Regions from separate parts of the Homo sapiens genome. Here all the other regions are linked to region 3. The links come from fine-mapping of genetic effects on plasma protein levels. Region 3 holds a variant in brackets. A gene starts in each other region. All regions are shown on their reverse strands. Region 1 holds the start of GAL (galanin and GMAP prepropeptide). Region 2 holds the start of KLK8 (kallikrein related peptidase 8). Region 3 overlaps WNT10A (Wnt family member 10A).

What was found. PIP is the chance, under the fine-mapping model, that this variant and not a neighbour inherited with it causes the effect. The UK Biobank Pharma Proteomics Project read protein levels with antibody pairs (Olink). The fine-mapping took linkage between variants from a reference panel, not from the people measured, so its PIPs are less certain.
Region 1: GAL starts here. The variant in region 3 is fine-mapped to the plasma level of the GAL protein (UK Biobank, PIP above 0.99).
Region 2: it holds the start of KLK8, and the variant in region 3 is fine-mapped to the plasma level of the KLK8 protein (UK Biobank, PIP 0.92).

Annotation. Positions count from the first base shown.
Region 1 is chr11:68,678,531-68,684,767 of GRCh38, reverse strand. GAL (galanin and GMAP prepropeptide) reads right to left here and starts at 224. Exons shown (of 6, transcript NM_015973.5): 1 at 36-224. All of the region lies in intron 2 of LOC107984343 (a long non-coding RNA gene), which reads left to right. RefSeq lists enhancers at 1-153, 830-1,505.
Region 2 is chr19:50,996,034-51,002,266 of GRCh38, reverse strand. KLK8 (kallikrein related peptidase 8) reads left to right here and starts at 663. Exons shown (of 6, transcript NM_007196.4): 1 at 663-735; 2 at 1,092-1,169; 3 at 1,684-1,843; 4 at 2,009-2,271; 5 at 4,383-4,516; 6 at 6,053-6,233. The coding sequence starts at 1,100. The coding sequence ends at 6,208.
Region 3 is chr2:218,887,689-218,892,688 of GRCh38, reverse strand. It overlaps WNT10A (Wnt family member 10A), which reads right to left. Exons shown (of 4, transcript NM_025216.3): 3 at 2,326-2,705. Among named protein-coding and RNA genes, the nearest start is that of WNT10A, 9.3 kb to the right of the region's middle. RefSeq lists enhancers at 1-45, 1-129, 646-775. The variant A/T (reference allele first, on the strand shown) is at 2,400.

The DNA.
Region 1 (6,237 bases), not on the chromosome of region 3:
CCGGGGGCGCAGGGTCGGCCCGGCGCCAGTAGTACCTTGAGCTGCGGCTGCGCCCGGGTTCGGAGCGTCGGGGTCCGGGTGCGGTGGCGGGTCTGGGCGGCAGGTCCGGGCGTCGGGCCGGGTCGGGTGGGCTCTGGCGGCCTGGGGCGCTCACCGCATGGCGCGGCCGGCAGCAGGGGCAGAAGGCGCGGGCCGGGTCCCTCCACGTGTCCGCCGCCCGGTGTGGCCGCCGCCACCGCCGCCGCTGCTATATATGCGGCGCACCCGGGAGCCGCCCGGAGTCGCGTCACCGGCTCAGCGCCCGCCTCCTGCACCCTCGCCGAGCCCCGAGGGCGACGGGAGTGACCCGAGCTCGGGTCCTCTGGGCCATCATAGGCGGGTGCGGCGGAGAGCCCCCCCTCATCCCGCGGGAGAGACTCCCCCAAATCTGCAGAGAGAACCCCAAACCCTGTGGGAGAGACCCTAATCCCGAAAGACAGAGCCCAATCGCCCCGCGGGAGAGCCCCCAGACCCGTGGCCCAAGTCATCGCTGTGGCGTCAACCCCACTGCTCCCCCCGGGGTCCCAGCCCCAGAGCAAGCCTGACCCCCCACAACGTCCCACGCCTGCGGTCTCCCTGCAGCTTCTCCTCCCAGCCCCTACCGCTGCAAAAGCCAGCTGAGCTCCGCAGCACTGGAGACCCCAGAGGGTGACGGGCAGGGACGACTCCTCAGTCCGAGCCAGCCCCAGCTGGGAGGTCATGGGGTACCCGGGGAATGGCGGGCAACACTTGGCCCTGCGCCCTGGCCGGCTTGTGCTGGGGCTGGAGCGAAGGTTCAGGCCTCGGGAGCCGTCGATGGCGGGGAGGGCAGGCGTTCCCGGCTCCCTGTGCCCAGCGACCTCCCTCCTGTTTCACTAAAGGGGGGCTGTGGATCTCAGGGTCTGCTTGGCCATCCCATTGTGGGAGCTGCGGGACCGTCGAGCATCCACAGGCACCAGCTCAGAAGCTCGGCCTCTCAGTGCCTCCCCTGGCTGCCTGGTCCAGTTGTAAGAGGGAGCTTTAAGCAGGTCCAGCCATTGGGCAACTGGTTAGGTCCAGAGGGAGAGCAGCCCAGACTCCCAGAGGCCGCCAAGGGGTGGGCGGTGGGCAGAGCAGCAGCAAGAGGCTGTCCTTGTGCCCAAGGCAAAGACATCCCACAGGAACAAGGCCCTCCTTGGCTCCTCCACAAACCCTTCCTGAGCTGGGGCCAAGTCCCGAAACAACCCAGGAGAGAACCCAAGCCTAGGCTGTTCCTTCACCCCATTCCCAGGCATCAGGGGAGCACAGGATCCCAGGCATCACACTTGTACAGTGTGGCACCTCCGGGCTTCCGAAGAGCACGGGGTCATCTGCTGAAAACTCGCCTGACCTCCCCTCCCACTGGCCAGACACCACCCAAGTCCTCAACAGCAGCAGCTGGGTTAGGATCTCCCCACCCACTGGGCTCAATATCAGATGGGTTGATGTCACATCTGTGGGTTGATGTCCACAGGGCACAGGACGAATGATGATCATGACAGTGTCATCTTACCTGTCCTCTACACTTTAGTCTTGGGAACCTTTGCACAGACAGCTACAGGCTGCCCCCAGGAGAGATCCGTCTGCCTCCACGTGGCTGGGGAAGGACAACTGGGCTTTCAAGAACTCTGGCGAAGGCCAGCGGCTGCTGGAGAAGGTGCAGGGCTGCAGCCTGGTGGCTGAGTGTCTGCTGTGGTTTATGGGAGGAAGAGGAGGAGACAGGACTTGGGGAGGGGTCTTAGGAACAGACTCCTGGCACGACAGTGGTGAGGGGTGGGGTGTTCCCAAGGGCACAGTTTGACTTCTGGTCATCCCTATTTCTTGCAGCCTGGGGAGAGGAGAGTCAGGCACAGGGGACCCTAACTAGGACTCACAGGCTGATTTCGGAGCCCACAGTAAACCCTGAAGTGGTTTCCTGCCGGGAGTGGGGGCGTGGGAGACAGTGAGTCGCCATGAGAGTCTGGGCCAGCCGTGGGCAGAAGGACAGCCGAGAGGCGGAGGAGCAGAGGGCACGTTCCTGTGACTCTGCAGAGAAGTGACAATGATGTCCTCTCATGCCCCATGTCCTTGTGTCTAGATGACATCAGGGAGTGGGCAGGGGCTGGGCTCATGGGTGCCTCTTGGCTACCTGAGAAATACTGCAACCTTTGGCCCCCGGTGGTAGTGGGAGCCCTGCTACCATCCCAGAGCTCTTTCTTGCTTTCTGCTGAGAACAAATCCAGCCCAGTGCATAGCACATCTTAGTCAATTCCAGCCTTCTCCTTTCTTCCACGTTAGGCCCCCTTCCAAATCCTGCCAGAGCTTGACTACACTTATTTTCTCTATTTACTTTGTCACAGAGGCTCTTAGTCTGTTTAAAGGAGCACAAACTCTAAACCTAAATCCTTGAGATGGATTCGAAAAGAGACTCAAAGTCCATCCCTTAGTCATGGGCTGGAATTTGAGGTACATTAAACTTTCAGCTGTCTTCATTTGGGCCTATGTACTCTTTTTGTTTCCTTTTTTGCTTTCAAAGAAACTTCAGACTGGGCGCAGTGGCTCACGCTTGTAATCCCAGCATTTTGGGAGGCTGAGGTGAGTAGATAGATCACTTGAGCCCTGGAGTCCAAGACCAGCTGGGGCAACATAGCAAGGCCTCATCTCTACTAAAAATAAATAAATAAATATTTTTTAAAAATCAGCCAAGCATGATGGCACGTGCCTGTAGTCCCAGCTACTCAGCTCAGGAGGCTGAGGTGGGAGGATCACCTGAGCCCAGGAGGTTGAGGCTACAGTGAGCCACGATCAAGCCTGCACTCCAGCATAGGCAACAGAGCAAGTCTCTGTCAAGAAAGAAAGAAGGAGGGAGGGAGGGAGAGAGAGAGAGAGAGAGAGAGAAGGGAAGAAGAAGAAAGAAGAAGAAGAAGGAGGAGGACGAGGAGGAGAAGGAGAAGAAGAAAAGAGAAGGAAGGAAAGTGAGGAAAGAGAAAGGAAAAAAAGAAAAATAAATTTCAGGCCGGGTGCGGTGGCTCATGCCTGTAATCCCAGCACTTTGGGAGGCCAAGGCGGGTGGATCACAAGGTCAGGAGATCGAGACCATCCTGGCTAACATGGTGAAACCCCGTCTCTACCAAAAATACAAAAAATTAGCCGGGAGTGGTGGCAGGCGCCTGTGGTCCCAGCTATTTGGGAGGCTGAGGCAGGAGAATGGCGTGAACCCAGGAGGCGGAGCTTGCAGTGAGCCTAGATCGTGCCACTGCACTCCAGCCTGGGTGACAGAGCGAGACTCCGTCTCGAAAAACAAAAAACAAAAAACAAACGAAAAAGAAATTTCAGGGTAGGTTATCTGGTCAGAGCCTCCTTATTAAAAAGACATTAAGCAACTGGAAACAAATCTTCACATGTATTTTGAATTCATTTAAGAAAGCTCCATTGAATAATTAGACACATGTATTCAAAATAAACATGCCCATGCCTGATTCCTCCAGGTCCCTAAGTTCTTTTTCCACGTGGGATGACACCCACCGTCTTGCTTCCCGCTTAGTCTGGGTGAGTGGGTCTCGGTATAAACCCTGGCTGGGACCCTGGCCCGGAAGTGCGGTGACCATGGGAAGGCTACAGACAAGCAAGGCAGTGGCCTGAAGGCGTGCTGGGGTTTCCTGAGGTCGGCAGATTCCTTCAGACAAATGAGGCCAGCACACCTGGGATGACAGACACCTGCCTCCCGGCACAGACTGTGCTGGAACCACAGCCAGTGTGCTAATGGCTCTTTGCTCAGTAATGACCCAATGGCAGTCATTGTCAACCTGTCATCTTGAAGACAGCCCAGTGTGCAGCAGACAAAGTGGGTCACCATTAGAGTAATCGAAATCAAGCAGAAAGCCTGATGTCCCCCGCTGCCTTCGAGCCAGCCCATCTTCCTTAGAAGCGCTGTCCACCACCAGGAAAAACCACCCTGAAGCTGAGAACTCAAGCAAGGGTCAAGGGTCACCTGGGCCATGCCCACTGCACGGGAGCTCAACCGTCCATTGCCTGGCAGTGGAGCTGCAGTGGTGAAATCAGCAGCAGGGTCCCTGCCCTTGCGGAGTTAGACCCTCACGGAGACCCATTACAGTTGGCCCCTCTGTATCTGTGAGTTCCCTGGCTGTGGGTTCAACCCACTATGGACTGGGTCCTTGTAGGTAGGCCTAGGATGGGTTTCTCTGTACGAATACGTACAGACTTTTTTCCTTGTCATTATTTCCTAAACAATACGGTATAACAACTATTCATGTAGCATTTACATTATACTCAGTATTATAAGTAATCTAGAGATGATTTAAAGCATGTGGGAGGGCCATCGCGGTGGCTTATGCCTGTAATCACAACACTTTGGGAGGCCGAGGCGGGCAGATCACTTGAGGTCAGGAGTTCGAGACCAGCCTGGCCAACATGCCAAAACCCTCTCTCTACTACATATACAAAAACTCAGCCAGATGTGGTGGCGGACATCTGTAATCCCAGCTACTCGGGACGCTGAGGCAGGAGAATCACTTGTACAACTGAACCCGGGAGGCAGAGGTTGCAGTGAGCCGAAACGGCGCCACTGCACTCCAGCATCTGGGTGACAGAGTGAGACTTCATCTCAAAAATAAAAAAGTTAAATTAAAAATAAAGCATATGGGAAGATGTGCGTAGGTTATATGCAAATACTATGCCATTTTATATAAGGGACTTGAGCATCCACGGATTTCGGTATTTGCGTGGCCAGGGGTTTCCTGGAACCAACCCACTGTGGACATGGAGGGCCAACTGTATGCAACAAATGGTTATTGTACAAATAACCACCCCATTGTCGTGGGAAGGAGATGCATGGATTAGGGGAGCTGAACCTGACAGGTGAGCAGGACTGACTGGGTACAGAATGAGGTCCAGCACACTCCAGGTGGAGGGGGTTACATGGGTACGCCCCCTTTTTGGTCCTTTTCCATTCCTTCTTCCTGCTGCCTGGAGTGTGGACGTGAAGGCTGGAGGTGGGCAACGAATTTGGACCATGAGGTGATGGCTTCAGGTGACACATCAAGGCCGAGGGAGCCTGGGTCCCAGTGACCCTGAGCCTGGTCCCTGGGCTGCACACTTCCAGGCTTGTTTCACAACAGAGGAGAAGAAGCATCTCTCTTATTTAAGCCAATGGCCCATAGAGGTTTTCCATCACGTGCGGTAGGAATTGTTCCAATCAGTTTCACAGTGGTCAACAAATGTTTGATGAATGAATGAATGAATGAATAAAAACACGTGAGAGGGTACACCACCTCCACCGCTGCTGAGAAGCTCATGTCTGCAAGACGGGCTCATCAGAGGGAGAGGTTTGGACGATAACGTGACGAACGATACCACCTATCAGTCCCACGACCATCTCGTTACTACTCAAGAAATGAGGAAATGGCTCGATGACCTAAAATTGGCATTTCTTTGACCCTGCAAATGTCTGTGTCCTTGATTCCCCCATTCCCTGATTTCCACGCCACCCAGCCCCACTCCAGTAACACAGCAGTCATGAAAAAAGACCCTAGAGTCGCTCCCCTAAAAAAATGAGTAGCTGGCAAAGGATCTGGCTAAGGTGAAAGTTGTATCAATGGATAGAATTATACCATTCTATGAATGAGTTTTTAATATATGTATTCGATTATTCGACAGAACCTTGTTAAATGGGTTCATTATACAGGGTTGTTTCATTCACAGAAACAATTGGGTGCTTTTACTAAGGGGTTAAGGTAGTAGAAATTGGAGTTTCGAGTGCAAGCTGAGAAGGGAGAAGAGGAGGAAGAGCAAGTTTTGGAGGTTTGAGGACATTGGGTAACAGAATGCCATCTTTAAAGCAGCCTTCTGGAAGATTCTTTCTGCATGCATCTTGCTGGCCAGAGTCATGCCCGGCCACAACAGAGGCTTGGAAACAGGTTGGAAACAGGGTCTTTTATTATGGATGATGTTGAGCTCACTTGAGTTCTGGAGCTGAAGGAGGAGGGGGACATGGAATGTTGGTGTGGGCCAGTACAGGCTCTGCCACAGGCAGGGCCCTAAGTCCATGTGTTTTCGTAGTTGTAAATTTTTTGTGAAATGTGAAAGCAAGCCATAATCACAGCCAGTTAAGACCTGTCTCTCGACACATCACTTCCTCAGTTTCCCCTCAGACAATGTGGTGCTGGAAAGGCCACAGGCACTTCTAGGCTCTTTAAGGGGAAG
Region 2 (6,233 bases), not on the chromosome of region 3:
CTCTCAGGGGACAGCGGGCGGGGCCTGATCCACCCTCTGGTTTCTGACCCTAGAAGACCTGCCTTTCTTCGGTTCCCGGTTACTGGCAGCAGCCCCCTCCTCCCACAAAAGATCAGGTTCCAAGCTTCTCCTTTTAAAAGTACTTAGAATTCAGCCCCCAGCTCTCTCCTCCCTCACACCCAGGAATCCAGGCCCCTAGCCCCTCCTCCCTCAGACCCAGGAGTCCTGGCCCCTAGCAGCCCCCTCCTCCCTCAGACCCAGGAGTCTGGGCCCCCAGCCCCTCCTCGGTCAGACCTAAATCCCAGGTCCCAGTCCCTCCTCCCTTAGATTTAGGAGTCCAGGCCCCCAGCCTCTCCTCCCTCAGACCCAGGAATCCAGGCCCCCAGCCTCCTCCCCTCTCAGAACTAAAATCTTGGCCCCCAGCCCTTTATGTTTCAGATCGTAGAGTCTCAGCACCGAGTCCCTCCTCTCCCTAGCCTCAGGAGTCTGAGATTCCAGCCCCTCCTCCCTCAAGATTTCACGTTCAATCCCCTCCGCCCCTTCTCACTCACACCCAGTGTTCCAGTTCCCAGAAGCTCCCCAGGCTCTAGTGCAGGAGGAGAAGGAGGAGGAGCAGGAGGTGGAGATTCCCAGTTAAAAGGCTCCAGAATCGTGTACCAGGCAGAGAACTGAAGTACTGGGGCCTCCTCCACTGGGTCCGAATCAGTAGGTGACCCCGCCCCTGGATTCTGGAAGGTGAGGTGCAGAGGTACTCAGATACAGACATCAGGCCCCGGACCCTCCTTCTCCAGATTCCAGGACCCCAGCCTCAGATGCCCTTCTCTGTCGAGATCCAGCAGTCTGGACCCCGGCTTCCTCCTCTCCCTAATTTAGGAGTCCCAGCTCCCAGCTCCCTGTCCCCTCAGACCCAGACATCGAGGACTCCCCCCTCCCTTGGAATGTAGGAATCCAGTCCCCCAGCCTCCTCCTTCCTCCAGAGAAGCCCAGAACAGCCCCAGATACTCTCGGCTGCCTCCCCAGTGCCCAAATCCAGAACTGGGAGCTCAGGCTCCTCCTTCCTGTTTACCGGCCCCGCCCTCTCCATTTCCCAGACCTCACCATGGGACGCCCCCGACCTCGTGCGGCCAAGACGTGGATGTTCCTGCTCTTGCTGGGGGGAGCCTGGGCAGGTGAGGAGGGTTGCGGAGGCCTCCGGAGGGGAGGGATCTGAAGGCAGCAGTGGCGCTGGGGAGTCTGTGGGAATGCCGCGGGGGTTATGTGGGTGCGTGTGCACGGATGTGAAGAGTGCGATACGGTGCAGGAGCCTCTGTGGGCTTTCCTCAGGGTGGACAGAGGCAAGAAACAGGTAGCAGCAGGTAGGAGTAGGTTCCGTGATGCTGTAAATTGTCTGAATAGCTACAGCCTTTGGGGGCTGCTTGCTTGGGGGCATAGATTCACCTGGGAGTACTCGGGGCCTGTAGACTCATGTGGAAGCATGTGGGGGCATTCTTGGGTGTGTGACTCTTGTATGATGACACATGGACTGAAATGAGTGTCCCCGTGTGGCAGCGTGTGGAAGCCTGGACCTCCTCACTAAGTTGTATGCGGAGAACTTGCCGTGTGTCCATTTGAACCCACAGTGGCCTTCCCAGCCCTCGCACTGCCCCAGAGGGTGGCGATCCAACCCTCTCCCTCCTGCTGCAGGACACTCCAGGGCACAGGAGGACAAGGTGCTGGGGGGTCATGAGTGCCAACCCCATTCGCAGCCTTGGCAGGCGGCCTTGTTCCAGGGCCAGCAACTACTCTGTGGCGGTGTCCTTGTAGGTGGCAACTGGGTCCTTACAGCTGCCCACTGTAAAAAACCGTGAGTGGATGATGGGGGCAGAGGTCAGCTGGGGCTTAAGGAAAGAGGGGGCTGGGGTTTCGACTCAGGAAGGAGAGAGCTGAGGACTGGACTCCTGGGTCTGAAGGAGGAGGGGGCTGGGGGCAATACCCCTGCCTGGGTCCCAAACTATCCCCACCATTACAGGAAATACACAGTACGCCTGGGAGACCACAGCCTACAGAATAAAGATGGCCCAGAGCAAGAAATACCTGTGGTTCAGTCCATCCCACACCCCTGCTACAACAGCAGCGATGTGGAGGACCACAACCATGATCTGATGCTTCTTCAACTGCGTGACCAGGCATCCCTGGGGTCCAAAGTGAAGCCCATCAGCCTGGCAGATCATTGCACCCAGCCTGGCCAGAAGTGCACCGTCTCAGGCTGGGGCACTGTCACCAGTCCCCGAGGTAGTGGGCTTGTCCACTAATGGGAGGGAGAGGAGGAGCTGGTTGGCCCAGTGGAACCCAAGCTATTGGCAAAGCTTGGTCCCCCAGAGGGAGACAAAGAAGGGAAAGTGATCATGATGTTGAGATTCACAAGCAGGAGTCATATGAGAAGCCTCGAAGATCTGACTACTAACAAGAGTGGTGAGAGAAAGAACCAACTAGCAGATTGTTAAGCAGGGCCAGAAAAGCCCATCCTGTATGGCGGAGAGCACTACCCTATGGGACCTTTGGTTGTATAGGATTTTATATAATCTTAACACACTTGGGATATTTGGACTTCTCAGAGGCCCAGGAAAACAGGCTCCTAAGCACCTTCTCCCCCACCTCCCTCCTTTTTTTTTTTTTTTTTTTTTTTTTTTTTTTTTTTTTTTTTGCAGGGGGACACAGTTTCACTCAATCGCCCAGGCTGGAGTGCAGTGGCACAATCTCAGCTCACTACAATCTCTGCCTCCTGGGTTTAAGCGATTCTCGAACCTCAGCCTCCCGAGTAGCTGGGATTACAGGCACCCGCCACCACGCGAGCTAATTTTTGTATTTGTTGTAGAGACAGGGTTTCGCCATGTTGACCAGGCTGGTCTCGAACTCCTGACCTCAAGTGATCTGCCCGCCTCGGCCTACCAAAGTGCTGGGATTACAAGCATGAGCCACCGCCCCTGGCCTTTTTCTCCTTCTTGAACCCAGGAAACCTGGGCCCTGGTCACCTCTTCCCTCAGACCCGGGAGTCTAGGCCCTTCTTCTCCCAGGACCCAGCAGTCCTAGCTCCCTCTTGACTCTGGACCCCAAAATCTGGACCTCCAATGAAGCTGTCCCTTTGGGACTCCAGAATCCAGAGAGCCCCTCGCCTTCCTTCACAGTGAAAACATTGGGACTCACCTAAGAGAGTCAAGGAGCTTCTCCAGGAAGTGGCAAAGTCAGCATTCAGGTCCCTGCCTGCCTCACTCCTGCTCTGAATGCTTTGGATGAGACAGTTTGCGGCTGTGGAAACACACGTGCTCGCAAATCAAGTAGATCAGTTCAAACTATGGCTCTGCCCTTTCTCCCTGGGCAAATTCCTTTCCATCTCTGAGCCTCACTTTCCTTATCTGCAAAATGGGAATCATTAACCAATAGATTTTTTAGCTACGTGAGGGTTCAGGTTACATCAGTTTTCTTCATTGTGTTCTCCTAGTGCTCAGAATGGTGCCTGCTACATGGTAGATGCTCAATAAATATTTGTTGAATGGATGACCTGATGAATAAATAATGAAATGAATGAATGCATCTCTCCTTCAAAGCGCTGTTGTGAGGATTAAATGAGATTATGAGCATATTGCTTTTGGCACGTAGAGATGCCAGATGGAAGTTTTTCCCCCTCAAAGAGGCTTTGGAGAAGTCTATTCCTCAAAAGAGGTTAATAAAAAAGATCAATTCCACCTTCAATCATTAATTCAACTCTTATTTACTGAGCACCTAGTATGCCTGAGGTGCTGTTGCAGGCGCTGGATATACAGCCATGAGCAAACTGTACAAAGTCCTTGTCGTTATGGAGTTGCAAGCTAGGTGGGAGAAATAGACAATAAACAAATACACATAAAATAAAACATTAGGCAAAGTGCTGTAAGGAAATATTGTGGAGCGTAAAAGGATAGGGAGTAATGGAGGGATGGTATTTTTTAATTCGAGTGGTCAGGGAAGGCTTCCAGGAGGAGGTGACACTTGGAAGGAGCAGGATTTAGCACAGATTGAGGACCCGGTTGTCTGAGGGCAGGAAGACTGGAAAGAGAGGGTCAGAGGTATCATAAAGGGGCACCTCCAAGTAACCCCCAGCCCCTTGATTTGAAAATGGCTCAGGGTAAGAAAAAACACGTGAGATCCAAGGGCCCCTCTCTAGATGGAGAAAGCCCAATAGCAACAAGTACAGCTTCGTTTAATGTGGTGAGAAGTGATGTCCCCTGTGCACAGTGTCAGAAAATTCCCCCATGCAGCTGGAAAACTCCCCCATTACATCCTGGAAAGAAAGGGGGTTAGATCCAGACAGGGATGGAGGCAAAGGGCTGCTCTCTCAGGGAACCTTACAACCTCTTCCCCCTCAGAGAATTTTCCTGACACTCTCAACTGTGCAGAAGTAAAAATCTTTCCCCAGAAGAAGTGTGAGGATGCTTACCCGGGGCAGATCACAGATGGCATGGTCTGTGCAGGCAGCAGCAAAGGGGCTGACACGTGCCAGGTGAGCAATTTCTGAAATCCTTCTCCTCACACATCCCTCATTGCCCTCTCGAGGTTCAAGGCTTGGATGGGGGTGGGGGTGGTAAGGGAGTGACCCCAAAGACTTGGCACCCGGAGTGTTCACCCCTATCTCTACGGATTGGGAGCCAGGTTCAGAGAAGCCAAACTCTCTCTCTGAAAGTCACACTGCATAGGGATTAGGAGCATTGAATTGCTGCTGCTGTTTTCTTTCGAACGCTTAACTACAGGATGGGATGCAGAGTTGGGGGCTATAGAGGGTGGGGTAGATGTCCAGCAAGGAGAGAGTCTGAGGCTAGAGTTTAGACGAGTTGCCTGCTCTCTGGTTCCCAGCATTACATCGTGGAATTTGTGCCGACTTTACCACCGGCCCGGTGGTCAGCCACTTTTCTTTGAGACCGGGCTAGAATCCCAAGGCTGGTTCCCTTCTCCTGTGATTGGTTCCTTGGGAGACAATGGTGTCTTCCCAGTTGGCTGGAGTAAATGGTGCCATTGACTTCAGTGCTTCCTCAATGAGCTCCAATCCCTTTCTCTTGGGATTTGTCATAGATATAACTCTCTCTTCTAACTGCAACTTCGTTGTTCCTAGCACTTTCCCCTGGCTTTGTCCACTTCCTGGAAGCCCCACCACCTTTGCCAATGACTGGTCCCTAAATACAATGCTTTCTTCCCCATTGGCCAAAAATGGAGTCGTTTCCATCAGCGATACTGCCATGAAAGCCAGTCTCTGGATTGTTCTGTAGAGATAGTGGTCTCTTCCACAAATATTTCAGCCATGGTCTCTTGGGGATATGGTGTGTGTGTGTGTGTGTGTGTGTGTGTGTGTGTGTGTGTGTGTGTCCATAAGAATCTTGATCCTTTCTCCTATGTTTGGCAACTGCAATCAATGATGCCTTCACTATTGGCCAGGAACAGAGGAAACTTCAGCTCAGTCCTCTCCAAGTAATCCCTACTGTCTTCTCCCTGGATTGGACCCTCGAGAACTCTTTTTTTTTTTTTTTTGAGACAGGGTCTCGCTCTGTCCCCCAAGCTGGAATGCAGTGGCACAATCTTGGCTCACTGCAGCCTCTGCCTCCCAGTTCAAGCAATTCTCCCACCTCAGCCTCCCGAGTAGCTGTGATTACAGGTGTGCACCACCACACCCAGCTAGTTTTTGTATTTTTAGTAGAGACAGGGATTCACCATGTTGGCCAGGCTGGTCTGGAACGCCTGACTTCAAGTGATCTACCGCCTCGGCCTCCCAAAGTGCCGGGATTGCAGGTGTGAGCCACCAAGCCTGTCTGGGATTTCATTCTTTCCCCTCTTCTGTCAGTGTTTTGACCACTACCCTTAGACACCATGTCTGTCTGTACATGGAAGCCCCAAGCCCTGTCCTGACTGGTCTCAGGGGACAATGCTTTTACCCCCATTGGCTACAGGGGACCAATCATGCCAAAGAACTGGTAAAACGCTGGGACAGCAGGAAAAGGGACGTTGTGGACATCTCAGATGCAAGGCTGTTCTCATTCTCCCTGTCTAGGGCGATTCTGGAGGCCCCCTGGTGTGTGATGGTGCACTCCAGGGCATCACATCCTGGGGCTCAGACCCCTGTGGGAGGTCCGACAAACCTGGCGTCTATACCAACATCTGCCGCTACCTGGACTGGATCAAGAAGATCATAGGCAGCAAGGGCTGATTCTAGGATAAGCACTAGATCTCCC
Region 3 (5,000 bases):
ACTCCCATTATACAGAGGCAAACGCTGAGGCCGGGAGCGAGGGTCCCACAACCAGGCAGTCAGAAGAACTTCTGTACCTGCTCTTCTGCCTCTGCCTCTGCCTCTCCCACCCACCTCCCACCAGGCCAGGCCCCGGGGGAATTCCCACCTGCCGGCTCCCCTCCTCTCCTGCCCGCCTTTCCAGCAGCTGCAGGGGGCCCTTGGGGCTGGAGGCTCTTGCTTCCTGAAGGGGGATCCCAAATAGGCAGGGAAATTCCCTCTCCTGCCACCCCTGGGGTAGGGGCCAGGAGCAGGAGGGTGCTGGCCCCGCTGTATCTCGCTCCAGGCCGTGTGTGTGTGTGTGTGTGTGTGTGTGTGTGTGTGTGTGTGTGTGTGTGTGTGTGTGGTGGGGTGGGTGGAGGGGTGTTCGGTGAGTTTCAGAAAGCCTTGGTCCCCCTCTCAGTCCTTCCCTCTCCAGCTCCCCCTACATCTCTTTGTAGAGAGCCAAAGGAGGGGGACAAGTGCTGGGGAAACTGTCCCCGATTATGCTGCCTGGGGCTCATTCTGCACTATGCTGAGACCCATGGTTCGTCCTAGGAAAAGTCAGCGCCACCAGGGGCCAAAGCTCTACCTAATACAGAATGGAACCGGAGAGAGCCAGGCTCTCCAGCTCAGTGAAAGTGGAGAAGGTCTCAGGCCTCCAAGGGAGGTGGTTATGGGAACGCAACCCAGCCGCCCCCAACCCAGCTCACAACCTGCTCTAGAGTCTCCTTACTAAGAACCCTTTGACATTTTCACCAGAAACCCCGTAAGAAGTTGGCCACATCCCCTCCTTTCCCTCAGTCCACTCCGAAAACACACCCTGAGACAGGGACGGCAATGATCCAGGGCCCTTAAACTTGGGCAGTAGGGCCATAAGAGAGGGCGCCTTCCCCTCGAGGTCTGAAAGGGCTCCACAGCGTGCATGCGCAGCCTGTGCTGTCAGCACCACGTGGGAACCAGACCAATGCCTCCCCAGGCCAACAGCTCCAGAACATCTGCTTCCCACGGGCAGCAGCCATTAATTAACCAGTTTAACGAGGAGGAGGAGGAGGAGGCACCGTTGGTATGGGCTGGGATGGCGGTGAGGCTTGGGAAAAGAGCTGTACAGGGCAGGCTGGGTGGGAGCTGGACATGACCCAAGGGTAAGTGTGCCTCAGTTTACCCCGCCTCTAAGTCAAGATGGGAATTGCTGAATCAGCTTTGTGCAGGAAGATGACCCATCGTGGGCTAAGAGGCCAAGAGAAAGAAGAGTGAGATGGAGAAGGTGCCAGCCAGAGTGAGAGGAAGCCAGGTAAAAGGCCTCAACAGGCTGAGCAGAGTCAAAAGAAGGGATGATGGAGATGGAATGCTCAGGAAAGGACAGTGCTGAGCTACCATGAGAGCCAACAGGGCATCAGAATGTGGACTCAACGCTGTAGAACAAAAGAGAACAGGCTCAAAGGTCAACTGCCTGGGGATGAACCCTGCCTGGACCACCTTCTCACTAGTTGCATCATTTTGGGCAAGCTTCTTGGTCAATCCATGCCTCAGTTTCCATATCTCAACATAAGGTTAATAACAGTGCCCACTTCATAGGTAGTTGTAAGGATTAAATAGGTTAATATGTAGGAAAGTGCTCAAGACAGTGCCTAACACATAGTAAGCACTCAATAAATGCAGGCTATTACCACTATCCTTTCTTCTGCTGCTTTTTTATGTATGTGTGTATGTATTTAATTTATTTTTAATGAATGACCCTTGAGGTAGTAGGAGCATTTGAGGACAGAGGATAAAGGAGAAAGGCACCATAACACAGTTCCCCAGTGGCCCCTAGGAACTTCACTTACACCCCTTACTTTGCAGGAATCCCTCATTCTAGACTGCACAGAAAGGCTGGGAGAGATCACTGGATCATGGAACATTAGCATTGGGGGGAACCTTAGGGATGATCTAGTTCAACCTTGTCACTCTATAGGGGAGGAGTCAGATGGGAGCTCCAGGCCTAGACTCCTGAAGTCCTGACTGCACCCCTGTCCTTTCTCCTGGGTGATCACCCGAGGAAGTAGGAGAAGCAGGTTGCTCAGCAGGTGGTATGCTGATCCAGGGCAACAGGGCTTGTTTCTGCCCTGTATCCCCAGGCCTAGTCCAGTGCCTGGTGCACAGTGCATACTCAGTGCATGTTTGTTGAATTAGACAGGGTCAACGAGAAGATTGCCAAGGTGTGACATGTGGGAGCAACGTGGTCCTCAGAAGAGAGGTAGGCCAGGGCAAGGGGTAGGCCCTAGGCAAAGAGATTTGAAGCAGACCCAGGGGTGGGGCTCTCACCTGCCTCCCAACTCGGTTGTTGTGAAGCCTCATTCTCGCGTGGATGTCTCTGTGAGGCTCCCGGGAGTCCAGAA[A/T]GTCCTTAGAAAAGCGCTCCCCGAAGCCCATGTCGGGGCTGCAGCCGCCCCACTCCCAGGAGTCCTGCAGGCCTGGGCTGGCTGTGGGCAGGGCTGGGTGTTCCGGGACCCCATGGCTCAGGCCCTTACCACGCTGCAGTGCATCCAGTTGTAAGCGGTGCAGCTTCCTACGGAAGGCCTCCTCGTCCCCTCGCCGGGACGCATCACAGCCACAGGCCTTCAGTTTGCCCAGGGCACACGCATTGGACACGGCGTGCACCACGCCAGCTGCTGCGATGGCGTAGGCAAAAGCGCTCTCTCGGAAACCTGTGGTTAAAGACCCAGAACACATGGACTCTGGAGGGGCCTTGACACCCCATTCTCCAGCCCACCTTTCTCATCATTCCAAGGAGAAACTGAAGCCCAGTATGCAGGAGAGTCTGGCACAAGGAAACAGAGTCAAAGAAGGGCAGAAATCACGCCAGAAGCCAGTTCTTCTGCAAACAGAACCTGGTGGGGTGGGAGGGAGGCTTCCCAATAGCCCTCTGCTTTTTGTACGCCCTTCTCCTGTTCTTTAACATCACCTTTAGCAAACTCAGAATTTGTGTGTCTACATCTCTACTGTAGAGCAGAAAGTATCAGGTAAACACATTCTTTTTACAATCAGGGACTTAATCTATTACCTCTCACAGTGGTATCTGCAATTTTAAAATAAGCCCACAGAATGAGGGCAACATTTAAGCTAAAGAATTCATTGCCAGTGATGTTGCTGGTGGGAATGTAAACTAGTACAACCACTATGGAAAACAGTGTGGAGATTCCTCAAAGAACTAAAAGTAGAACTACCATTTGATCCAGTAATCCCACTACTGGGTATCTACCCAGAGGAAAAGAAGTCATTATACGAAAAAGATACTTGCACACGCATGTTTACAGCAGTACAATTTGTAATTGCAAAAATATGGTACCAGCCCAAATGCCCATCAACCAACAAGTGGATAAAGAAATTGCAGTATAAATATGCCATGGAATACTCCTCAGCCATAAAAAGGAACAAAATAATGGCATTCACAGCAACCTGGATGGAATTTGAGACTATTATTCTAAGTGAAGTAACTCAGGAATGGAAAACCAAACATCGTATGTTCTCACTTATAAGTGGAAGCTAAGCCATGAGGATGCAAAGGCATAAGAATGACACAATGGACTTTGGGGACTTGGGGAAAGGTTGGGTGTGAGGTGACAGATCAAAGACTACACATTGGGTGCAGTGTACACTGCTTGGGTGATGGGTGCACCAAAATCTCAGAAATCACCACGAAAGAACTTATTCATGTAACCAAACACCATCTGTTCCCCAGAAACCTATTGAAATAAATAAATAAATAAATAAAATGATATTTCATAAAATAAAATGTACACAATTTTGGAAAAAAAGAGAATAAATTGTCAATGATGAAATTCCAGGCCTTAGGAGATGTCAGTGGGCAGCAGAGTAAGTAAGAGGAGACGGTCAGCTCCTAATGCTCCCTGCCCCAAGATAGCCTGCTGGGTGCGTGCCCATCTTAGGCACAGCATAGGATCCTCCCTAATGACCAGACTCCAGAGGCAAAGAAATGGGTCACCAGAGCTTCCCCTTGCTTGTCCACAGGACATCCCTGAAAGCCACTCAGAAATGGGCGCTACCCAGCCACCTTGCCTGTGACCCACCCAGGTCAGCTGCAGAGGCTGTTGGAGGTACGCTAGAGGGAAGCCCAGGGTCCTGCATGGGGTCTGGCATGTAGTAGTGTTGAACATGGAGAAGGAAGGGCAAGCTGAGGCAGATACCTTCCACCAGATGTTCAGGAGGCACAGATTTTCCCTGACCAAGCCACTCTTGGGGGCCGCGGCTAGGCCGGCCTGGCCACTGGCTTGTCCACACTGCCTTCCTTCTTGGTGCTCCAACCTGAGCCATTCTCTGGGAACACCTGGACCTGTGGCAGGGGGAGGCCTACTTGCAAAGGAGGGTCCCATTCTCAGACATGCAAGCTATCTTTTGCTTATTCTGCATCTGAGAATGGACCAGCTAGGAACAAGTTCTGGTACAAGTCTCCAACCAGCCTCCGCACACCAGAGAGGGGGCAGGCAGCAAGAGAAGCCAGAGGCCTGGGCCAATCCCACCTTAATCCTCACCCACTGCATCACAGAGCCCTGTCCTCCCCTTCCTGCCAAAACAAACAAAAAAACCAAAACCAAAAACAACCAACAAACAAAAAATAACAGAAAGAAACAGAACAAGCTGTTTAGTAGTTAAGAACTAATTCCTGAAACCAGTTTACTTCAAATCTTGGCTCTTCCACTTACTAGCTGCTAATAGCTATGTGACCTTGGCCAAGTGACTTAACCTCCCTGTGCCTCAGTTTCCTTACCTATAAAATAGAGCTATTATCTGCCTCATTGTTGTTCCAAGAATTAAATGAACTGGTAAATTTAAAGTGCTTAGAATAGTGCCTTACTAATCGAGGAAGTATTACTCAAACATTAGCTATTATTGAGAAGTTCTTTCTGCTATCTGACCTCACTCACTCCTGCTGCATTTTTTGGGCCATTGTTTTTTGTTTCACCCTGATCAGGGACAAAGCC